Linked DNA regions of Homo sapiens: regions 1, 2, 3, 4 and 5 are each linked to region 6. Evidence: fine-mapped expression QTL. A gene starts in region 6. Each other region holds a variant in brackets. All regions are shown on one strand. Distances are from middle to middle.

Region 1 (4,096 bases), 95 kb before region 6:
TTTATTTTTGGAATTCAGTGTATCGAATTGCCATTTCTTTACAAGTTTAGTAAAATTCACCAGTGAAATCATCTGGCTTCAGAAACTGCCTTTTTTGGAAGGGTTTCAACTTCAGCTTATCTATTTAATCTTCAGTGAGTTTTGGTAGTTTTTGGTTTTCAAGCAATTGGTTTATTTCATCCAATTGATTGAATTTAGGTACATAAAGATGTACATAGTATTATTTATTATTATTGTTGGAATATCTTGAAGGGTTTGTGGTGATATACTTTTTCATTCCTGACATTGGTCATTTCTCTTCCCTTTTTTCTTTGATAAGCTTATTGCAAGACTGATAGTTTTATTGATCTCTTCGAAAAACTAGGTTTTGATTGATTTTCCTCTATTTTTGCTTTTTCGTTTGATTTCTGCTCTTTATTTTGGTGACTGTTTCTATGCTACTCGTGAATGGGGTGTTCTACAAGTGTAAATCAAGCTAAGTTGCTTAATGGTGGTGTTCAAGTCTACTGTGTCCTTAATGAAAAGAAGGTCTTAGTTTTAATGTAGTCTAATTTATATTTTATTGTTAGCATTTTGTGTCTTACTACAGTTTTATCCCTAAAGTTTACATAAGCAAGAGTTCAGAGTAATCGACCCTGGTATTTTGATTACTTAATTTTAAATGGGAAGTAAATGTCTCGGGCCAGCAGTGTGCCCAAGGATCCTGAAAAGTAGAGCAAGAATTGTCCCTGACTCAGGGGGAGGCACTCCTTAGCAGACTGTGGAAGTGGCACACTTCAGCCTTGACCTCTTAGTGGTTCCAGGGGTTGGCAGCTTCTAGGAAGACAGCCCCACAGCTCAAAAGGTTTCTTCTCCAGCCAGCCCTGTGTCTGTGTCTCACTAGGAATGGCCCATCGCTGCATCTCCTCCTGTGGCCCTGGTGTCACAGGTTGTAGCCAGAGAGGGGCTTCTTCCCAGGCTGTGAATCCTACTATGGAGGACTTTGGACTCTGCCTGGAACCCTGGCAGGGGTCCACTCTGACCTTCCTTATCTTCGTCTGACCCAGCTGTTACCACCCCTGGTAGCCCTTTTCATAGCTACCGTGGCTGGGTGCAACGGGTACTTTTATCTGACAACTTGGCCAGGCCAAGTTGATTTTCGTCAAACAAACACTGGTCTAGATGGCGCTGTGTAACTAACATGTAAGCCCGTAGACTTGAAGTAAAACAAACAGTTTATCCTTCATAACGTGAGTGGGCCTCATCCGATCAGTTGAGGACTATAAGAGGAAAAGGCTGAACTCCCTTGAGGAGGAGGAAATTCTGCCTCCAGCCTGCATCCCCAGCTCTTCCCTGGGTCTCCAGGATGCTGGCCTGCCCTCAAGATGTTAGACTTGCCAGCCCCCAACATCCTATGAGCCAGTTCCTTAAAACAAATCTCTGCATCTCCCTCCATCCTGTTGGTTCTGTTTCTCTAGTGAGGCCTGACTAGTAAATGGGGGGTTCTAGCTCTGGCCTTATTTCCTGAGAGATGGGGACGGAGTTCCCCTTCTGGTTCCCTTTGGTGGTTCTGGCGTGGCTTCAGGCAGAAGAACAGCATGGAGACCTCTCTCCTCTGCCATCTGTCACGTGGAAGAGCAGATCGGTTTTTGGAAGTCTTTGGGGCAGTGGGAAATCAAGCTTGTCTGCAGGCAGCAGGAGATACTACAGTTCCTGGTTCCGGAGAGAAGGGCCACTTTCTGAGAGAGACTCTTGCTTTGTTGCCCATGCTGCAGTGCAGTGGTACAATCTCCACCTCCTGGACTCAAGCCATTCTCCTGCCTCAGCCTCCCGAGTAGCTGGGATTAACAGGTGTGCATCATCACGCCTGGCAACTGTTTTTTTTTTTTTTTTTAAACTTTTAGTAGAGACAGACAGGGTTTTGCTGTGTTGGCCAGGCTGGCCTCAAGTGATCTGCCTGCCTTGGCCTTGCAAAGTGCTGGGATTACAGGCGTGAGCCACCATGCCCAGCCCTACTCTTTATGTCCAAAAGCCGAGGCCTTCCTGTAGGCCATTCATGATGGATTGCTGCTCACCCCACGTGGCCATTAACACATGGCTGTGGGTTTCCAACCTGGCCCCTTGTATGAAAAACCCTAGGTAAACACATCAAAATAATTATCCCCCGGCATAGCACTTTATTTAAAAGTCCCTCATTTTATGATGAGGAAATGGGGCCTCCAGGAGGGCAATGGGCAGAGTGTGACCATCCTACCCACTGCCTCTCAGGAGCCCCTTGTATCTGCCACGAGTGGCCTGCCTCACTGCAAGCTGTGGCACAGATACGTAGTTAGACATGGTTAATAAAAATCATTGTGATTTAATAAA[C/T]AGTGTGGTGTTTCTGTACAGGCCCCTCCCTGTCTGTCCCACAGCCAGCGGGAACGCTGGATGGATGTGGGCCTGGGTCCCTGGAGCCCACGAGGTTCCTGCAGCTTTCCTAAGAGGAAAAACTGATCCGGTGATGGAAGGCTGCGGCCTCCTAAAAGTCTCCCCTGACGAGGAGACACGGCAGGGGCCACAGTCACAACCAGATCGAGATGATTAGGGAAGGTGCCGCGGAGTGCGGTCCACTACACATCTTCAGGGTGCATCTGGACTCTCTTGGGGCTGCAACAGTATTTTTCACATAGTTTGAGGAGCTCTGACAAAATGAAGACGGATGAGGCCAATCCAGTTAAAAACAGCAAATCTGCCAAGGGAGAAAACAGAAAAGATTCAGGACGGGCTGCAGCTCTGTTGCGCCGGCAGGAAGCGCCTTCCCTGCCAGTCCTCCTGATAAAGTGAGAGGTGCGGAGGACCAGCCCTTTTCATTCCCCTGAAGGCAGGGAGATCTTCCTAACCCAGAATCCAAAATGCTGCAGTTCCAGAAGGGCCTGCCTGTGGTTCCAGGCAAACACCAGGCAGCTCCAGAGCACAGGGTGGGTCTGGCAGGCAGCTGGGAGCATGTTATGGACTCGGGCTGGAAGGGGAATGAGTTTCCTTTCCCTACAGCAGCTGTCCCAGTGCCCTGCTGCTTGCAAATGTCCTGAGTGACCAGTCTGGGCTCCCTGTCCAGTGCACCCCGACATGTTCCCTGGGATGAATTCCCAGCGACATGTTCCCTGGGATGAATTCCCAGCGTCTCCCTCTGCTCCTGTCACATGCTGTTTTGAGGAACCATCCCTGGCTCCCTGTTGATGATTCCTGATGTACGGGCTGCCCAAGCACAACCCCTTCAGGCGTGGGAAGCCGACTTCCTTCCCGGCGGGTGGAAACAGCCAGTGAGCAGAGTGTTTTGGGGGGTCCTCTTGTCTGTTCCTACAGGGCATTCACTGGTGACCCACACTGACACTGCTTTTTGGAGGACAAGGCAGAGTTGACCATCCCAGTCTTGCCTGGAGGTCATAGGACCGTTGTCACTGCAGCCTCAGGTCTGATGCATAATCCCATGACCCTCCAGATCTGAGCCATGACCCACTCTGGGCCCTGCCGGCGGGGAGGCGGTGGGCCCATGGGGGCTGCCTCACTGGCCTCCCTCGTCCTCTATTCCGGGTTGGGGTTGGCTCTCAGCACACTGGGGAAAAGGGTGGGGTCGATGACTTGTCCCTGGCTCCCTCCCCTTGCCCCATGCCTGCCATAACCGCAGCTTCAGAGAAAGGTGCCACACTCGCTTGGCTGACAATGTCGGGGAGTCCCCTGGGCTCCACACCAGGGCGTGTGCCCTTGGAAAACCACGGTGACTGAATCATGTCCCTTTCAGCCAAAACTGGAAGACAGCCCAGCTCCCTGCCTTCAGGTGACCAGATCTCTAAGTCACATTACTGGCCCCAGGGTCAAGTCCAGGCTCCCCAGCTGGGGTACCTCCCAGGCTGAGTACAGGCCTTGCTCCCTCCTTCCTCCCTGCACGTGCTCTGAGCCTCCAGCCCGACGCCTGGGATGCCGGTGCCCCTTGGGCCCCAGACCCTACTACTCTTGAGTGACAGGCCTCTTCCTAGGGGTTTCTGTGCATCCGTCACATCACCCACGTTAGAGTCCCTTCCTGTGAGGACAGAAGGGCCCTGAAGACAGAGCCGGCCCCTGGTGAGCTCTGCTTTCCCGC
Region 2 (4,105 bases), 35 kb before region 6:
TACAGTAGGACACCCAGTAAAATCTAAATTTCAGAAAAACAAGGAACTTTTTGTTTTTAGTATAAGCACGTCCACTGTATTGGGACACACTTATACTAGAAATTGCTTCTTGTTTATCTATCTGAAATTCACTTTGGTTTTGTTGTTGTTGTGGAGACAAGGTCTCACTCTGTTGTCCAGGCTGGAGCACAGTGGCACAATCTCAGTTCACTGCAGCCTCCACCTCCTGGGTTCCAACAATCCTCCCACCTCAGCCTCCTCAGTAGCTGGGATTACAGGCATCCACTACCACATCCGGCTAATTTTTATATTTTTAGAAGAGACGGGGTTTCGCCATGTTGGCCGGGCTGGTCTTGAACTCCTGGGCTCAAGTGATCCACCCGCTTCAGCCGCCCAAAGTGCTTGGATTACAGGCACGAGCCACCACGCCCAGCCTGAAATTGAAATTTAACAGGGCATCCTATATTGTTATTTGCTAAACCTGGCAACTCTGGGGAAATCTTTCAACCTCTGCACTTCTCCTTCCTCATGTGCAAAGGCGGGATTAGGAGGAGGATTAGTAAGCGCATGCTTACTTATTCACTTACTCATATAGCGTGGGGCCCGGGGCCTGCTCAACTGTCTACGAAAGTGATCACTGTTTTTCCTGATCGCGGTTGCCTGGGAGTTGGTGATTTGCTCATGACTGATGCTCAGGCTGGCTGGGGCAGCGTGAAAGGGGCGGGAGCTGTCCAAGGATGCCTTCCATCAACATTGAAAGATGGAATGGCTGCCCCACCCTCGCTGGCTTATGCATGTTAATGCAAAGAATGACACCTCTGGTCCTACCTGATCCAGGTATTTCTTCCACACAGGTTCGCTGTTGTCAGCAACAAACTCATTCCAGCCATGGGCCAGCCGGCGCTGCGTCACCGAGAACTCCGACAGCCCAGTGTGTAAGTCCACCTGGAAGGAGAGGTCAGGCACAAGCTCACTCATGGGCGCAGCAAGGAATGAGGCAACAGGGTACAGACTCCCACTCTGAAAGGCAGCGGCTTCCATGATGGGCCAGGGACACAGGCTTGTCCACCAAGGTGCTGGGACTTGTTCAAAGACCCCGTGCAGATGGGGCAGAGAGAGGAGGAAAAGGCACAAGCCAGTGACCATTATAATTACAGCAGAAAAGACGACTCTGGTCTTAAATTTCAACAAATGGAAATGCAGCATAGACTTCCAGAAATGCAGAAACACATCTTTTCTTCTTAAAAAAAAAAAAAAAAAAAAGGTCTTGGGAATGTAAAATGGTGCAGCTGTTATGGAAACTGTGTGGCGATTCCTCAAAAAATTAAAAAGGGAGCTACCAGATCCAGCAATTCCACTTTGGGGTATATACCCAAAGGAACTGCTAGTGGGGCTCCAAGAGATGTTTGTACAACCATGTTCGTAGCACTGTTCACAAAAGCAAAAAGGAGGAAACAACCCACCAATCTTTCAAGGGATGAATGAATGCATGAAACATGGTGTACACACACAATGAAATACTATTTAGCCTGAGAACGAAAGAAAATGCTGACACGTGCTACAACATGGATACACCTTTAAGTTGAACCTTGAGGATGAAGTTAAGTGAAATAAACCAGTCACAAAAAGACAAATTCTGTTGATTCCACATATGAATTACATAGACTAGTCAAATTCATAGAGACAGAAAGTAGAATGGTGGGTGTCAGAGGCTGGAGGGAGAGGGAATGGGGAGTGAGTGTTTAATGGAGACAGATTCAGTTTTACAAGATGAAAAGAATACTGGAGATGCTAATGTAACCCGCTTTGCTGACTGTGGGTCTTAAGACCCTCCCATGAGAGGGTCCCACCCTATAATCTGGGGGAAGGAATGATGTCATGAAGCTTCCCTAAAAACCCAAAGATAGGATTCAGTGAGTTTTCACGTACCTGAACGTGGGGATATTCCTGGAGAGTGGCATCCAGGGAGATGTTTGAACAACCATGTTCATAGCAGCATTGGGCATGGAAGCCCTGCGCCCCTTCCCCCATTACCTGCCCTATGCGTCTCTTCATCGGTATCCTTTGCCTTTATAATAAACTGGTAGGGCTTGGTGGCTCAGGCTTGTAATCCCAGCGCTTTGGGAGGCCAAGGCAGGCAGATCACCTGAGGTCGGGAGTTCGAGAGCAGCCTTGTCAACATGGCAAAAGCCCGTCTCTACTAAAAATACAAGAATTAGCCGGGCGTGGTGGCATGTGCCTGTAATCCCAGCCACTCAGGAGGCTGAGGCAGGAGAATCGCTTGAAGCTGGGAGGCGGAGGTTGCAGTGAGCTGAGATCGCGCCATTGCACTCCAGCCTGGGC[A/G]ACAAGAAGGAAACTCCATCTCAAGAAAAAAAAAAAGAATTCTGGAGATAGAGAATGGCGATGGTTGTGCAACAGTGTGACTATACTTAATGCAACTACAATGTACACTTCAAAATGGTTAAGGCCAGGCACAGTGACTCATACCTGTAATCCCAAAACTTCAGGAGGTTGAGGTGGGGAGATTGCTTGAACCCAGGAGTTCAAGGCTAGTCTGGGCAATATAGCATGATCTTGGCTCTACAAAAAAATTTTAAAAATTAGCCCATTGTGGTGGCAGACTCCTGTAGTCTCAGCTACTCAGGAGGCTGAGGCAGGACGATTGCTTAAGCCCAGGAGGTGGAGGCTGCACTGGCCCTTGATTGCAGCACTGGACTCGAGCCTGGGCAACAGAATGAGACCATGTCTTGGAAAAAATAACAAGGTTAAGATGGTAAATTTTATGTTGTGTATTTACCACATATCAGACATTTTTTTAAATAGGCCTGTCTTAAGAAACAAGAGTATTTTTTTTTAAAGGTAAACAAAACTGACAAACCTTTAGCCAGGCTAAGAAAAAAAGAGAGAAGAACCAAATAAATACAAACAGAAATGAAAAAGGAAACTTCACAAATTATATCACAGAAAGTCAAAGGGCCATTAGTGGCTACCAGGAGCAACTATATGCCAATAAATTGGAAAATATAGAAGAAATGGATAAATTCCTAGACACACAGAACCTACCAAGATGGAACCATGAAGAAATCCAAAAGCTGAATAGACCAATAACAAGTAATAAGATCAAAGCCATAATAAAAAGTCTTCCGGTTAGGAAAAGCCCAGGACCCAGTGGCTTCACTGCTGAATTCTACCAAACACTCGAAGAAGCGATACCAATCCTACTAAATAATTCCAAAAAACAGATGAGTAGGGAATACTTTCATTCTACGAGGCCAGTATTACCCTGATACCAAAACCAGACAAAGACACATTTAAAAAAGAAAACTACTGGCCAATATCACTGATGACTATTGATGCAAAAATCCTCAGCAAAATACAAGCAAATTGAATGCAATAACACATTAAAATGAAAATTCATCATGACCAAAAGGAATTTATCCCAAGGGTGCAAGGATGGTTCACCATACACAAATTAATGTGACACATCAACAGAATGAAAGACAAAAACCATATGATCATTTCAATTAATGCTGAAAAAACGTGACAGAATTCAACATCTCTTCATAATAAAAACCCTAAAAAAACTAGGTATAGAAGGAACATGTCTCAATGTAATAAAAGCCATATATGACAGACCCAGGGCTAGTGTCATATTGAATGATGAAAAACTGAAAGCTTTTCCCGTAGGATACCCACTTTTACCACTACTATTCAACAGAATACTGTAAGTTCTAGCTAGAGCAATCAGACAAGAGTAAAAAATAAAGGGCATCCAAATTGGAAAGGAAGAAGTCAAATTATTCTTGTTTGCAGATGATATGATCTTATATCTGAAAAAACCTAAAGACTCCACCTAAAGCTATTAGAACTCATAAACAAAATCAGTAAAGTTAGAGGATACAAACTCAAATGATAAAGATCAGTAGCATTGCTATATGCTAAGAGAAAGCAATCTGCAAAAGAAATCAATTAAGTAATCCCATTTACCACAGCTGCAAATTAAATATCTAGGAATTAACTTAAAGAAGTAAAAGATCTCTACAATGAAAACTATAAAACATTGATGCAAGAAACTGAAGAAGACACAGAAAAATGGAAAGATATT
Region 3 (4,105 bases), 27 kb before region 6:
CTCCCGAGTAGCTGGGATTACAGGTACGCATCACCACACCCCACTAAATTTTTTTGGTATTTTTAGTAGAGACGAGGTTTCACCATGTTGGCCAGGTTGGTCTCAAACTCCTGACCTCAGGTGATCCGCTTGCCTCGGCCTCCCAAAGTGCTGGGATTAAAGGTGGAGCCACTGCGCCCGGCCACATGTGTTTTTTTTAAAGCATAAAACACACACACACAGTGTGCATATGTGTACAGCTCACAAACTAACCCTTATAACCAGCCCCCAAATTAAGAAACAGATATGACTGGTCCCCTGATGCTCCCTTGGCCAACCTACCTACCTGAGGGGTAACTGCTGTCATGGTTTCAATCCTCATAGATTAGGTTGGCCAGGGTTTGAACTTTATGGAAATGGTGCCATGCAGTATACACTCATACATGCTTTCTTGTCTGATTTCTTTCACTCAACATTGTTAGTGAGATTTATACAAGTGAGAATGCATGTAGCAACAGTACGCTAATTTTCACAGCAGCTTAGTATTCCACTGTATGAGTAGATCACATTGTATTTGTTCTCCTGTTGATGAATATCTGGGTTCCAGTTGTTAGTTGTTGGCTAATACTGATGCATCTATTTTTAAGCAAGTTTTTTTTTTTTTTTTTTGTCACCCAGGCTGGAGTGCAGTGGTGCAATCATAGCTCACTGCAGCCTCAACCTCCCAGGCTCAGGTGATCCTCCTGCTTCAGCCTCCTGAATAGCAGGACCACAGGTGCATGCTATTGTGCCTGGCTAATTTTTTAATATTTTGTAGGGACAGGGTCTCCCTATGTTGCCCAGGCTGAGCGAACTTATTTTACAGAATTGAAACTTGTAAGTGGACAGAGTAGGGCAACAATATACATATGTAGAATCCTGAACCTCGAACTTCCAGGATTCTCCATCAAGTATGCACCATATTGCAGAGAGTGCCTCCTACTGATGATAGGTGGTATCACAGCCTGGTTCTATGGGACATTTTAAATAACCAAAGAAAAGGGGAGGGGAAACACAACCAAGTTCTGGAAGTCCCAGCACTCTGTGTTGAGACCTGCGGGCCTGGAAAGAAGCCACGTGAAACACCTGGAGGCTTCGGGAGGCTTTGCTAATACAAAGGAGACCTCAGAAGCGGAAAAGTGTGAGGTATTTTTGCAAAACCATTCCTAGCATCCTGATACCCAGGATGTGATAATCATCTTTTCCTTTTCCACCAGGTTACTGGAAACTGGGAAAAAGGAAGCAGGAGAGGTATTGAGTAACTTCCTCCTTTAGCTGTAATAGAGATTGCAAATCCCACTCTTCCTTCTTGACAGCCGCCCTCCCCAACCCCAAACCATCTCCTCCCAAATGCCTATTTGCTTAGAAAAGCTGTGCTACCCACCTCGGTTTCATGCGGCTGCTTCTCACTCATGCCCAGTGCCCAGGAGCACAGCAGCGATTACGCAGATCTTTAAGCAGGCTTAGCCATCCATTGGGAGCCCTCCTTAAGTCAACATTGCATTCTTTGTAGAGTTACTTCAAAGAAAAATGTGGATTGCACAAGACTTTTCCCCCCATTCTCAAGATCTGCTCCCGTCGTACCAAATAAAGTGCTTGATTCTTGCGCACACCACAGGTGGAGGCAGGCTGGGCACTCCCCCCATCCCCCACACTCACTCAGCTGCCCTCAGCCTTGCCATTTGTGACTCACTACACCGAATTCACTTTTCCTTTTTTTTTTTTTTTTTTTTTTTGAGATAGAGCCTCACTCTGTCACCCAGGCTGGAGTGCAGTGGTGCGACCTCGGCTCACTACAACCTCCTCCTCCCGGGTTCAAGCGAGTCTCCTGCCTCACCCTCCCCAGTAGCTGGGACTACAGGCACGCACCGCCACGCCTCACTAATTTGTTTTTGTATTTTTAGTAGAGACGGGTTTTCACCAGGTTGGCCAGGCTGGTCTCAAATTTCTGACCTCAGGTGATCTGCCTGCCTCAGCCTCCAAAAGTGCTGAGATTACAGGCGTGAGCCACTGCACCTGGCTCGAAACACA[T/A]AAATCCCATCTCACACACACACACACACACGCCCGATGCTTGAAAACACTTGCAGAGATTCCAGTGCTCTCAGGATAAGAGCCCAATTACCTTCAATGTGACTGCCCAAAACCCACACATGCTACAACATGGATGAACCTTGAAGATGTTATGCCTGGTGAAATAAGCCAGACCCGAAAGGACAAATCCTATAGGACTCCAGTTACAGGAGGTCCCTAAAATAGTCAAACTCACAGAGACAGAAAGGAGAGCAGAGGTAACCGGGCTGGGGAGTTAGTGTTTAATGACTACAGAGTCTCTTTGGGAAAGATGAGAGTTTTGGAGGCAAATATTGGTGATGGTTGCATAACAATGGGAATATACTTAATGCCAGAGAGCCATACCCTTAAAAATGGTTAAAATGGTGAATTTTATGTTATGTATATTTTACCACAATAAAAATCCAGAAGAAAAGGGCCAGACACAGTGGCTCATACCTATAATCCCAGCACTTTGGGAAGCTGAGGCAGGCAGATCATCTAAAGTCAGGAGTTCGAGACCAGCCTGGCCAACATGGTATTTTGTAAAAATACAAAAATTAGCCAGGCATGGTGGCAGGCATCTGTAATCTCAGCGACTCTGGAGGCTGAGTCAGGGAGAATTGCTTGAACCTGGAAGGCGGAGGTTGCAATGAGCCAGAGTCAGGGAGAATTGCTTGAACCTGGAAGGCGGAGGTTGCAATGAGCCAAGATCATGCCACTGCACTCCAGCCTGGGCAACAGAGTGAGACTCTGTCTCAAAAAAAAAAAAAAGATCAAAGGCACCAATTCCCCTGCCTTTGAGGGCAGGACTAGCATGTGCCCCCAACCTTTGTCACGTGCTCTGGACATCTGAAGGCCCAGGGCTGTCCACCCACATGTCCCTGGGGAATGAGCTAGGTGGATTGAGGAAGTCATGGGGTGACAGGGTGCCATGCTGCAGTGACACTGGAGGGGAGAGGGGGTTGGATGCAGAGACCTCCCTCACTCCCCTGTGTTTTGTGACTGCAGGGGCAGAGTCCAGAGCCCAAAGGAGAGAGGACCCAGCCTCCGACTTCCCTCTGTGAGTAAAAGCCACCTACACACTCCCAGCTCTGTAACCAAGGGTACTGGAAACAGGGACTCTGCTCACAGCAGCACAGTTCACGAGACCCAAAAGTCAGACACTGCCCGATGCCCATCCACGGATTATGGAGAAGCAAAATGTGGTCCATCCAGACAGTGGAGCATCAACTCAGCCTCAAACAGGAATGCAATACTGACGCACGTGAATGTTGTTAAACTGTGGCCTCTGCAAAACCATTCTTTGAAAGCCTAACACCTGGTACACCAGAATGTGACTTTATCTGGAGGGCATCTTTACAGAAATGATCAAGGTCAGATGAGGTCAAATATGAGCGATGTTCTTGCAAAAAGGAGAATTTTGCAGAGATAAACATGCACACAGGGAAGTCCATGTGGAGACACAGGAGAAAACCCTGTGATGATGGAGGCAGAGGCTGGAGTGACGTGTCCATCGGTCAATGAATGCTGGGGATTGCTGGCCATGATGGAAGCTTGAAGAGAAGCGTGGAACAGATCCTCCCCTGGAGCCTCCAGAGAGAGCACAGCCCTCCTGACTCCTTGAGTTTTGACTTCTGGCTTCTAGAACTGTGAGACAATACATTTAAATTTAAGCCACCACATTTTTGGTACTCGGTGACCATAGCCCTGGGAAACACACTTGCTACAACACAGATGAACCTGGAAGACATCACACTAAGCGGAAGAAGCCAGACACAAAAGGCCACACGGTATGTGAGTCCACTCATAGGAAAGGCCCGGGACAGGCAAATTCGTAGGAGCAGAAAGCAGACTGGGACTGGGGAAGGGGGAATGGGGAGAAACTGCTAATGGGTACAGGGTTTCTTTCAAATGTTTCAGAACTGAATAGAAGTGGTGGTCACACGACATTGTGAGTGTACTAGATCCCATTACAATGTTTACTGTGAGATGGTTGATTTTGTTATGTGAATTTCACCTCAATAAAATAAGAATT
Region 4 (4,086 bases), 120 kb before region 6:
AGTCCATATATCAGCAGGCAGGTACGAAAATGGTTCTGTATATAAATAGGTCGCTGTTACTCCAGAGTTTAAGTTGTCTAGCTTTAGTTCTCAGAGCTTTAAGAAGAGCACAGCTTATTTTTTAATGATTTCAAATCAGAAAAATGGGGGGAAAAAAAGGAATAGAAGGAAGGAGAAAGATTGAAATGTTATTTTAAAGACTTGTAGCCAGGAAAAAATTCTAGGGTTCAGTCCAAATTGTAGAAAATAATAAAAATTGACACTGGTCAAAGCTAGAATCCAATAACCAGTGTACTATGGTTTATTTTGAAACATTTTTCTCTCTTCAGTTCCCCACTTTCATTAAAGACAAAATCATAGTAGGACCAACTTATTTGTAAAATAAGTTGTAGTCTAATTATACTTAGCTTGATTATTTTGCATAAAGTGCAGCAACAGTGATAATTTGCCATATAGACACTGACTCTCTTTGAATTATCTTTGCTAGAACTTTTCCTTAAGGAGTCTGAGATTAGACATTTTTATTTATTTTATTTTATTTTATTTCATTTTTTTAGATTAGACCTTTCTAAAAGCTCCAAGCCTAGCCAAGAATTTATCTGTGCCTGTAGATACCCATGTGACTTGGGTGAATTCCTCTCTCTTTGAGGTCCCAAGAAAACTTGGAGTATTTGGGCCTGTCAGAAAGTGACATCCTTTACTTACAGATCAGGACCCTGTAAAGGACAGTGTGAGGCCAGTTTGTCCAGTGGCTTTTATCAGCTCTACAGGTCAGCTTCATTTTCTCAAGGTAATCTGAAAATGCTGTTCCAGTCAAAGCCTTCATGAAATAACCAGTGTTTCCAATTATGTCCTGTTATAAAAGAAAACAGATTCTTATTGAATGTATGCAAATAATTATATTGCCATAAATTAAGAATACTCACAAATAGTTTCCAAATTTTAGAGAAATTAGGTAGACAGAAAGGGATTATGTTTTAAATTTTGCTCACTAGAGTATATTTTAATTGTTAAAAGCTGTAAATAGCTTAAAAGAGAAAGTTTTCTTGACTCTGGAAAAAAAACAGCTAATGTTGTAAACAAAATGTCATAAAAGATTATTTCGGTCATCTGTTAGTTCGGTCCACGCAATTAACTTCTTGCTTGCTTGATATTGGATCGGCAATCCTCATGAATACGTCAGCCCCCTATGAGTCCTAGAAGTTTTCCTTTCTATTCCAACAGCACAATCTCTGAAGTTATCGGAACCGATATTTAAGAGTACTCTTCAGAGTTCTATAGCTGACTATAAACTGCCCTATAAAAGGATCAAAGTAAAACAATTGTGGATGTCAAAAGTCTTAGAACAGCCATGGTTAAAGACACAATTGACAAGGAAATTTGGGTACTTCTCTGGCATACAACAACTTTACATAATAGTAATTACTACTGATAACATATACTAAGACACATCAGAATCACAGGAATCTCATAGAATTTTGGAACACATACTAATAACACACTTACATAAATGTGGTCCAAAGATGGTTAAACACCATTTCATATTTGACAGTGCTTCCTGTATGATTGTATTATACCAAGTAAGCCCAATATGTCTCCCTTGGAGCTCAAGGGACCTAATATCAAAACAATAATTGAGGTCAAAAGGACTGAATTTTGAATTTGATTCTGGAAAGTTTGTCAAATATCAGAAGTTTAAAACACTTGATATAGGCTGGGCGTAGTGGCTGACGCCTGTAATGCCAGCACTTTGGGAGGCCAAGGTGGGTGGATTATCTGAGGTCAAGAGTTCAAGACCAGCCTC[G/A]CTAACATGGTGAAACCCTGTCTCTACCAAAAATACAAAAATTGGCCAGGCGTGGTGGCACACACCTGTAGTCCCAGCTACTCGGGAGGCCAAGGCAGGAGAATCGCTTGAACTCGAGAGGTGGAGGTTGCAGTGAGCCAAGATTGTGCCACTGCACTCTAGCCTGGGTGACAGAGTCAGACTTCATCTCCAAAAATAAATAAATAAATAAATAAATAAAATAAAACACTTGATATCACAAAATAAGATCACAGGTCATTGTAAAATAAGTCATTTAGCCAAAGTGCTAACTCAAAGGTTTTGAAAAAAAGGGTAAAAACCTTTATTTTTTTGAGAGAGGAGACTTAATTTCCCAAACAATAAGCCCTAATAAAGACAGTATGAGGCCACTTAAATCTCTGTGAAGTCTTATAAACAAATCTATTAAATTTTAATCATCTTGACCATAAGATGTAATTTGTATAAACCTTTTTATAACCTTTTATAATTCTTTAAATGAAAAGGTGGGTTATGCTCCAAGAAAACCTTGTTAATCTGACACAAGGACCCAGATGCTGGTGTTGGATCAGTGTATGTTTGATATTAATATTTAATTTACAGAGAACCTCTGAACTAATTTTCTCTCTCAAAATCGGCCCTTACAATCTCATACATCCACCTCTTCCACAATAGTCCCTGGGCCTAGAGGGGTTAAATATTTTAAATTTCAGGCCCTGTGTCTCGTGAACACAGTTTGATTGCCATCTTTTCCTGGGTCTCAAAATGAGGCTTTAATTGTTTTCAGTGTTGAAGATTTAGCAGGATTCAAGTCTCTTTTAGCCCTAGGAATCACAGCCCTGTAACTTAACAGCAAAAGGACTTTAAAAACAATACAAAATGTTACATGGATATGATAACCTTAATTTAAAAAAATTTAAATCTGTTTTCTTTTTTCTTTTCTTTTTTTTTTTTTTGAGACGGAGTCTTGCGCCTTCACCGAGGCTGGAGTGCAGTGGCGCGATCTCAGTCACTGCAAGCTCCGCCTCCTGGGTTCACGTCATTCTCCTGCCTTAGCTTCCCAAGTGGCTGGGACTACAGGTGCACGCCACCACGCCCAGGTAATTTTTTGTACTTTTAGTAGAGATGGGGTTTCACCATGTTAGCCAGTATGGCCTTGATCTCCTGACCTCGTGATCCACCTGCCTCGGCCTCCCAAAGTGCTGGGATTATAGGCGTGAGTCACCGTGCCCAGACGTTTTTTTTTTTTTTTTTAAGACAGGGTCTCGCTCCGTTGCCCAGTCTGGAGTGCAGTGGCACAACCTCAGCTCACTACAACCTCTGCCTCCCAGGCTCAAGCGATTCTCCTGCCTCAGCATCCCAAGTAGGTAGGATTACAGGTGTGTGTCACCATACCTGGTTAATTTTTGTATTTTTAGTAGAGACGGGGGTCTCATCATGTTGGCCAGGCTGGTCGCGACCTCCTAACCTCAAATGATCTGCCCACCTTGGCCTCCCAAAGTTAATTTTTGTATTTTTAGAGATACAGTTTCACCACGTTGGCCAGACTGGTCTCGAACTCCTGACCTCAAGTAATCCACTCGCCTTGGCCTCCCAAAGTGGAGGGATTACAGGCGTGAGCCACCACGCCCAGCCCCCTACTTCTGTTTTTGATTTAAATAATTTGAATTGTCTCCCTTTTTTCTGTCAGTGTAGCTAAAGATTCTTCATATTTTTGTTGATCTTTTCAATGAACCAACTTTTGGTTTCATTAAAGAGTAGCTGTGTAGTAATAACTTTTTTAGACAAAAATCAGGTAACACAGTAGAAAAGCAGCTTAAGAGCTGAGAGGAACTGGTCTGTTTATAACTTTGGGGTTCTGTAAAGAAACAAATTTCTCTCAGAAACGAGTGTGGCACCTTCTCTGTTTTCTTTAAGGAATCCCAGACTCTTAGACATTATTTTAGGTCCTTCATACAGCGGAGGGTAGCAAGAGGAAGGAGAGACACGCAGAAGCAAATGGAGAAAAAAATTCAGTTGATTGAGAAGGAAATAAATCTTCTTTTTTCTAAAAACAAGACCCTAGGAGAGACAAAAAGGCATTATGTCCCTTTAAATACACACACACACACACACACACACACACACACACACACACATCTTGATTAGCTTTTAATTAAGCTGACTTTAACCATTGAGCTCTTTAAAAAAATCATTTTAAATCTTTTACTACCGTATTTTACCTGGGACAAAAATGACTGGTATTTCAAAAGTAACACAAATATCAAACCAGAAAGGATTTTGAT
Region 5 (4,094 bases), 28 kb after region 6:
TGGGACGGTGGGCCTGGCACCCAGTCCCAAAAGCCTTGCTTCCTTCCTTTCTCCTGGATAACCCACCTCTGCCTGCCACAGACACCCAGAACCCTGCTGCCTCCATCTTCCCACTCATGCAGTTAGATGAGGCCTGAGCTCCAATCCCACCCCTGCCATTTCTCCAAGGATCCGCTCTTGGGCAAGTGACTTCACCTCCCTGGGCCTCAGTCTCCATTTGTGAATGGGGCCATAATTCCCACCTCTCAGGGGTGTGGGGAGAGTCGGTGACATAATGACCCAGGTAAAACTTTCAGCATCTCCACATTATTTTCAGGGGTGAGAAAAAAGAAATGGCTTGGAGTCTGAGCTTCCTGGGATGTGCAGAATTCATCAGGCTCGGAAAGACGAGAGTGTGGGACCTCAGTCATGCCGTCACCCCCAGGCCTAGGGGTAGTTAAAGGCATTTTGTTCCTGACTTGCTGCCTCACCCGCTATCTTCATGTTCTGGGAATTTGTGACACAAAGAACAATGCCTAGCCAAGCAATAGTTTCTATTATTTTCATATAAATTCTTGGTAAACAGCTTGGGAACTGCCTTTCCTTTTTTCCTTTAAAAACCTACTTGTAACTGCTGCTGAGTGGACTTTATATTCAGAGCAGCTTGAGTCCATACTCTCAGGTTGAAATCCTCAAGCTTGGCCCAAATAAACTCTCTACTTAATTTAACTAAGTAATTAAGTCATTTTTTCCTCCGTTGTTTTTTTTTTTTCCTTTAGGTCAACAGGGTCAAGTTCAAACTCAGCGTGTGAACCGGCTGGCACCTGCTTAGCTTTCTAGCCCCACATCCTCTCACTCTTGGGTGCCCCCTTTCCCTGGCCATGCCCACCTGCTTGGAGGTCCTTGAACTTCTCTTCTCCATGCCTTTTTCAATGTTCTTCCCTCTGCCTGGAATGCCTTTACCCCTCTTCCCTCTCCTGACCTAGCCGCTTGCTCCCTGCTGGGGGTTCAATGACGTCTCCCCAGAATGCCCATGTCCTAACCCCCAGAACCTGCGGATGTGACCTCATTTGGAAATAGGGACTTTGCAGATGGGATGAAGTTAAAGGTCTCAAGAGGAGATTATCCTGGACTTAAGAGGGCCCTAAATCCAATGACAGGTGTCCTTCAAAGAGAAATCAGAGGGAAATCTGGGACACGGAGACAGAGGCAAAGGCCACGGGAAGACGCTGCAGAGATGGGAGAGGCACATCCTCAAGGCCGGGAGTACTGAAGTGGCCGGCTGCCATCGGAAGCCGGGAGAGAGGCGCCGGGCAGATTCTCCCTCGAAGCCCGGAGAGAGGCACGGGTTGGATTCTCCCTTAGAGCCTCCGGAATGACCCAGCCGTGTCAACACCTTGGTTTTGGCTTTCTGGCCTCCAGAACAGTGTGAATGCATGACTGTTGTTTCAAACCACTTGGTGTGTGGGCATTTGTTAACAGCAGCCACAGAAACTCATACTCAGAAACTTTGCTCAAACGTTGCCTCCTCTGGGAAGGCCGCCCTGACTCCTCATCTCGACTGGAGGCCCAGATCCCAGTATGACCCTCTCCTACCTCTTACCTCGGTGGCCATGATCAGCGACGCACCTGTGTGGCTTCACTCCAGAACGTAAACTGAAGGGCGGGATTCCCTAACGGCTTAGATTACAGCAGCCTCTCCCAGAGAAGTCCACAGTCTAACAGGCCTCGCAGCTGTCAACAAAAGATGGTTCTGTAATGGTGGAACTTCAGGCAGCTCACAGGGGCCTGCAGGAAGGATGTTTTGGGGGCTGGGCTCCTTTTCACTCAGGCTCCTACTCCAGGTGTCTGCACGGGAAGAACCTCTGTGGGGGCTGTAAGATCAGGTTTGTCCTGAAAGACAGTCACCTGAAATGAACCCACCTGCCTTCTCTTTGGACCAACTTACTGATATCTGTGAGAATGTTCTAGAAAAAAGGCTCAGGGTGCGAGCTTATACTGGCAACTCAGATGGAAAGCAACCTGGGAGGGAATGTGGCCACATCCGAATAACCAAAGTCCAAAGGGATTATTATTATTATTATTATTATTATTTTTCTGAGACAGGGTCTTGCTTTGGCATCCAGGCTGGAGTGCAGTGGCACAATCATGGCTCACTGCAGCCTCGACCTCCTGGGCTCAAGCGATCCTCTCACCTCAGCCTCCTGTGCTGGGACCTGAAGTTGTGCACCACCATGCCTGATTTTTTTTTCTTTTTTTTAAGAGACAGAGTCTCACTTTGTTGCCCAGGCTGGCCTTGAACTCCTGGGCTCAAGCAATCCTCCCACCTCATTCTCCCAAAGTGCTGGGATTATAGGCATGAGCCATCATGCCCGGCCCAAAGGGATGATT[T/C]AGTTAAGTTTGCCCTTACGGAAAAAGCTGCTTTCAGGGTCCTTGGATGGCGGGAGGTGCTTTGTCTCCAGCAGGCCTGGAGGGGCCCACAGGCTTGCCCACTAGTTTCCAGCGTCCCGGTGCCCCGTCTTGCAGTGGGGACCCAAAGCACCCAGGGGCCCATCCCGCAGCCATGCTTTGAGACCCTGTTTGCTGTCAGGAGGGACAGAGTCCTCTCAGCCTCTGGCCACCCCTGCTCCCTGTGGCTGTGGAACCGTCCCCAGGTGGTTAGAGAGGTGGCCGCAACTGAGAAATTGCTTCCTCAATACAGGAGAACTTGTGCTGCAAGAGAGAAAACTCCAGACAGGGGTTCAGAGAAGTGGGGCTGGCCTCCTTCTGTTCCTGGAAGAGTGGGAGAACGGGAGGTGGGGCTCTGATGTCCCAACAACCTGCCCCGCCAGTTTCCAGCTGTGAGGCCGTGGGGAGATTGCCACATACTCCCGTCTTCCTCATATTCCATCCACACGTGGGTAATAAAACCACCTAGTGAGGAGGAGGTGACAGTGCAGTCAGGATCTTTTGATGGTGATGGTTGCTCATGCAGCAAGATCACAGAGCTACACACACGTGCAAAGACACACACACACGCACGCACACACACACCCGTGCAGAGTGGGACACAGATGAGTATGCTCCATGGAGATTGCCAGCGTCACCTTCCCGGTTTTGATGTCATGTCGTAACCGTGTGAGATGTTACCATGGGGGAGGAGGGGTGGAGGGACCAGGACCTCCCTGTATATTTCTTTGCATGTCTTGTAAATTTATCAGAATTTCAAAGCAAGAAGTTTTTTTAAAAAAATTCTTTAAAGAAAAAAATCCAGCCAAATGACCTTAGTATAAAATACAATTTGACTTTGACAATTAATGGCAATAAAAGGGAACAAATTTGTTCTTCTTTCAGAGCCAAGTCTTGAACCCCATCAGCCCAGGGCCACAGCCCCTCGCCACTCCTTCACACGGCTCATCACGTGGCCCCATCTGCCCCGACTGGTTCCCGCTGGGTTTCTGTCATCGTCACCAAAGTGCAGTGGTCATCCAGCCTCTCAGCGCCTTTGAGTCCCTGGCTGGGGTCTTCAGTGACCCTTCTGTGTTTCTTTGCCTCCCAGCCTTGTAAGTTTCCTGACCGTTTTCACACCCTCATCTCATCTGGTCCTATGGAAGGCACGGCAGATGTTACCCCCCGTTTCAAAGCAGTGGAAACTGAGGATCAGGGTGGCTAAGCTCTTTGTCCAGGGATACGCAGCTAAGGACCAGTAGGGCCACCATGGAACTCAGCTCCAGTCCAGAGCACTCCAACAACCTGAGGCAGCCGGGTGTCTGCTCAGATTTCAGCTCAGGAGAGAGACACTGTCATCTGTCTCCAAAACAGTCAGGTCCAAGGGAGGATCTCAAGGGGAAACTGTACTAGGTTCAAAGCCAAAAACATACAGCTGCTTCCCAGACCAGACGGGCCAGGCACACACCATCTGCCTGCGATCACTGATCCATCTGTGTCTCTCCTCCCGTGCAGGGAGGAAGCAGGAAAGGCCAGGGAGGAGGGAAGGGAGGCTCTTTAGCCATCCCAGGGGCAGCATGATGAAGGGGAGAGCCCCTGGGAATCAGCAGGCCATGGTTCAAATCCCTGCTTCTCCATGTACTGTGTCCCACTAGACTATAGGCAGCAGGGGCGGTTTCTAGGCTGTT
Region 6 (4,000 bases):
CTGGCTGTCAGGAAATGCTCACTGAGCAAACAAACGTGGCCCCACTAGGAGCCTCACATCCTCATTGATCACATGACGAGAGTAAAATTTACCTTGGAGGTAAGAGGCCCAAGAGAAGACACAGCAAGTTCTCAGTAACAATCACTATTAGAACTGGGGTAACTGGTCAAAGTGGCTGGGGGAGGGGAGGGCTTAGAGGCCTCCTACAGGCATCCTGGATGTGGCATGTAATTAGTGCTCATAAAAGACGGTTCTATTGAGGAGTGAAAATGGAACCCCTAAATAAACTAGTATGAAATAACGCAAAAAAAAAAAAAGACAATTCCAACTATTGTAGAAGTGATCACCTCAACACACATCGCCTCCTTTCCAAACCCTGGGAGAAAGGAGTTCCAACGAGAGGACATGAGTATGACAGCAAAGGAGGTGTTCAGGTCTGAGCCAACCTGGCAGGAAGTGAGTGCCTCGCCCAGCCACCCGGCCTCCCCACCTCCCTCCCTCCTCACACTTCCCATCGATCTTCATTGCCATTTCCTGGGTTTGCACATTTCCTGGGTTTGCACAAGGCTGCCTCTGGAGACAGCATGGCTTCTTTCTCAGCTGGCCTTTGGTGTCAGTGCTGGTATCACCCGCCTCCTGGCGCTGCACACTGCCCATCATCACGCACCCAGGGCCTCAGGATGCTGCTGAGAGCACCCCGGTCCACAGCCAGGTGGGAGAGCACACTGACAGACCGGCTGAACACCTGTCAGACCTCTGAGAACTCTCCTGCAAAGCTTTGGAGGGACGAGTCCACCTGGCACAGAGATCAAACTCTCCCAGCATCTCCCTTGAGGTTACATCATCCATGCACCTGCATTCCTGGACATCCTGTGAAACCTGATGGTAACCAACTACACACCAGGAGAGTTTGAAAAATACCTGGCCTGATGCAAGAATCAAAAGATGGAAAGGAAAAAACAGGAATGGCAACATAGGAAAGGCAACCTGTGATGGCAAATAAACTTCAAACTCCTTTAGCAGAATGTATCGCAGAAGCAGAGAAATGGATCACAGCCAATTAATTGAACTCTATATCCTATCAATATTAACATGCCACTTCAGAAAAATCGAGATTGCTCAAAAACTGCTAGTTACGTGGTCCTGTGGCCTACCACCCTAAGACCAGAATTCTTACATCAACAGGGATGTATAAAACACTATTTTTAAAAAAGCACAAAACACTATTTTTAAAAAAGCACGAATACTTAATCTCACAAACAAAATGTTTTGACCATTAGTATTCTTTGGGAGAAAAAAATAAAATTTTAAGTCAAATATTTTTTCAGCTAATTTCTTTTTTTAATTAAAAGGTAAGTTTACCTTTGAAGTTTCCTTTCACTGGTCAAAAGGCCATCGCCAAGTCATATTTCTAATTAGCAACCCAGGGGACTCGTTCAGAAATGTTACTTTTGAACGACTGCTTAAGCGTAAATGAAAAAAAAAAAAGTGCAACGACCCTCTGGCGTGCAGAGAAACGCTTCTGCAGAAATTCAGTGCCCCCCTGACCTTAAAGCATGCAACGAGTTCTGTTTGCGAAGCTAAAAAGAAGGGTGTTGGGTCACCCTCAAGCCTGGCTTCACCCCTGGCTTCCAAGAATCCAAGGAACAGGAGGGGCTTTATTTGACAGCTTTGCCACTTCGTTCCCTCATGAACCGCCCTGCCCTGGCACCCTGCTGCTTTATCCCAGAGGGTCCCTGAAGGTTGCAAAGCAGGCATACAGCTCTGAGTGACTTTCTAAAAGTACCTGACTGTAGGAAGTGAGGCTGGGAGGTCCCTCAGCTCCAACTTTGCTTTCTATTATTGCTACAACATTTCAGCAATCTTTTGTTTTTTGCATCCCTCTAATTTTATTTTCCAATTTAAGTTTTAAAAATCCATAAAGCAGCCCAAGTCTGGAGACCCAGGAATTTTAATTCTCTGGAGTCAGAGAAACCTAGGTTAAGTTCCCAGCCAGGTCACTTCCTAGCTCCGTGCCCCTTAGGGAATATACTTAACCACTCTCGGCCTCAGTTTCTCAACCACAAAATGGGTTCACGTGAGGGTTCCATGCTGAGCTCCCCGCGCCAGAGCGCAGATGAGAGCGCGGTTGCTGTGAGGACAGCTTCTTTCCAGAGCCAGGGGAGGAGGGCGAGTTCGCGGATCGCAGCGCGAACGCGGGGTCTCGGGCCGGGGACGGTTACGACGGAGGGGATGGGGGGTCGGGTCGCACGCCCGGCGCGGAGTCGCGGGGACTCACCAAGGCTTCCTCTTCGTCCTTCTCCAGCGCCTGGTACTGGCGGCCCCCGCCCGAGAAGCCGAGTTTCTTCAGGAACTCGGAGACGCGTCCCTCGACCATGGTGAGCGGGCGCAGGCGTTGCCTGCGTCCCTAGGTCCCCGGCGAGGCCCGGGATGGCTGCGCGCGCCCAAGCCTCCTGGGCCGGACCCGGTTACCAGGTAGCTGTCTACCTGCCCGCGGCAGGTGAGGCCCCGCCCCTGGGGCGGGGCTGCGCACAGGGAGGTGCCGGCTCACCCGGCCCCGCCCCGCGAGCTCGCCTGGGACCCCAGGGGCTCTGGGGACAGCGCCGGCTGGCCATGAAAGGCCCAGGGAGAGGCTGCGTCGCCTCAGGGCTTGGGCTGTTTCCCAAACTTACAGATCCTAAGAATCACCTGGAGTGGGGGAGGTGGAGGAGCAAATGCTGGTTTAAAATCCGGATTCCCAGACCCCTCCCTGCCCAGTCACGGTTTGGAGCCGCCGGGAGCTGGGTTTTTAACGAGCCCCAGGTGATCCTCTTGAGGAACCCAGGGTGGGCGGCTCTAAGGCGCCGGGAGCGAGGTGGCTGGAGCTCAGTCAGACTCACACCTGCGGCTGTGCACTCTGGACGGGTCACGTGGCCTTTCTGAGCCTCGGCAACCTAGCCTGTCATTGAGCGGGGAGCAGCAGAAGGCTAAGACCCCCACCTCCAGGGCCCTGGGAGTGAGTCCAGGAACAGGAGCGACTGAGAGCCCTGCTGCCTTTGGCGCCTGCATGGTCTCGGATGGTCAGGGCCCCTGTCCTCGTCTGCAGGATGAGCGCCGCTCTTGCTCGTCGTGGGACCTGAGCAGGTTTCTTATATTTTTAGCGCCTTGGTTTACTGCTCTGCAGAATGGCCACCACGATAGCGCCTCCTTCACAGTGACATGGAGAGGCCCCAGCGGACAGTGCTGTACAGGAAGGTCTCGAGCAGGGCTTGGAGTAGAGAATGTGCTGGTGTCCCCATGACACCATCCTCCTCCTCTTCATCATCAGAAGGTGCTGGGCTCAAATGGCTCCCAAAGTATGTGAGTCCATACGCAGTGTAGACAGTTGCCAGCAGCCAAGTGGGTGCTTTGAAGTTCCAGGGCTTTCTTTGGCTTCAGGTAGGACTAGATCCGTAACTAGACCCACCACTTAGCAGAGGGGGAGCTCTGGGGAAGTCCGTGCCACCCGCCTTTCCGCTGGCTTCCTCATCTCTACAGGGAAGTTACTCACGGGCTACAGGAGGTGCCCTCTGCATTTGTCCACGAAATTCAGCCACCCCTTTTGAGCAAATATTTGCCACCTACCTCAATTGCTCCCGAGGGTTGACTCCAGGCCACGAAAACCTGCAGGGCAGTTCCAGTGCCCCTTCTTGTATCTCCTGCATCTTCCTCTTTCAAGGAAACAAAGGCTACGGTATCAGCCTGGCCCCACTCCCCAGTTTCAACAAAGGTGCAGGAATAATGGTAACAGCAAACCTCTGATGTGAGTGAGTCCAGATTTGAATCCCAGGAATGTTCCTTTCCGACCTTGGGCAATTTTCTTCACCTCTCTCCACCTCAGTTTACTCATCCATAAAATGGGGATGTCACTACCTACCCGTAGGAGTCAGGGTCCCAGTAGGAAATAGTAATTTGAGGAGAGTTTGAGAAACAGACTTTTTACAAAGCTGTGGGGAAGACGTAGAGAAACCAGAAGTGCTTG

Direction of the effects. Positions count from the first base shown, and alleles are read on the strand shown. Sizes are in standard deviations (SD) of each study's normalised expression. Not every link is listed here.
For the expression in prefrontal cortex of the gene that starts at base 2,455 in region 6, allele G in region 4 goes with a lower level than allele A (large effect, 1.1 SD a copy in CommonMind).

What was found.
Region 1: its variant is fine-mapped to the expression of ATP2C2 in lung (TOPMed, PIP 0.96).
Region 2: its variant is fine-mapped to the expression of ATP2C2 in cerebral cortex (GTEx, PIP above 0.99). The same link has a PIP of 0.9 or more in anterior cingulate cortex.
Region 3: its variant is fine-mapped to the expression of ATP2C2 in lung (TOPMed, PIP above 0.99).
Region 4: its variant is fine-mapped to the expression of ATP2C2 in prefrontal cortex (CommonMind, PIP 0.95).
Region 5: its variant is fine-mapped to the expression of ATP2C2 in esophagus mucosa (GTEx, PIP 0.96).

The regions. Positions count from the first base shown.
Region 1 is chr16:84,462,225-84,466,320 of GRCh38, reverse strand. ATP2C2 (ATPase secretory pathway Ca2+ transporting 2) reads right to left here. Exons shown (of 27, transcript NM_014861.4): 27 at 2,134-2,707. The coding sequence ends at 2,589. ATP2C2-AS1 (ATP2C2 antisense RNA 1) reads left to right here. Exons shown (of 3, transcript NR_146503.1): 2 at 3,322-4,096. Among named protein-coding and RNA genes, the nearest start is that of ATP2C2-AS1, 3.1 kb to the left of the region's middle. The variant C/T (reference allele first, on the strand shown) is at 2,347.
Region 2 is chr16:84,401,968-84,406,072 of GRCh38, reverse strand. It overlaps ATP2C2 (ATPase secretory pathway Ca2+ transporting 2), which reads right to left. Exons shown (of 27, transcript NM_014861.4): 3 at 829-945. Among named protein-coding and RNA genes, the nearest start is that of ATP2C2, 35 kb to the right of the region's middle. The variant A/G (reference allele first, on the strand shown) is at 2,344.
Region 3 is chr16:84,394,199-84,398,303 of GRCh38, reverse strand. The region is part of intron 1 of ATP2C2 (ATPase secretory pathway Ca2+ transporting 2); the gene reads right to left. Among named protein-coding and RNA genes, the nearest start is that of ATP2C2, 28 kb to the right of the region's middle. The variant T/A (reference allele first, on the strand shown) is at 2,050.
Region 4 is chr16:84,490,508-84,494,593 of GRCh38, reverse strand. All of the region lies in intron 3 of MEAK7 (MTOR associated protein MEAK7), which reads left to right. Among named protein-coding and RNA genes, the nearest start is that of MEAK7, 12 kb to the left of the region's middle. The variant G/A (reference allele first, on the strand shown) is at 1,805.
Region 5 is chr16:84,339,260-84,343,353 of GRCh38, reverse strand. No RefSeq gene overlaps it. Among named protein-coding and RNA genes, the nearest start is that of ATP2C2, 27 kb to the left of the region's middle. The variant T/C (reference allele first, on the strand shown) is at 2,371.
Region 6 is chr16:84,366,993-84,370,992 of GRCh38, reverse strand. ATP2C2 (ATPase secretory pathway Ca2+ transporting 2) reads right to left here and starts at 2,455. Exons shown (of 27, transcript NM_014861.4): 1 at 2,279-2,455. The coding sequence starts at 2,377.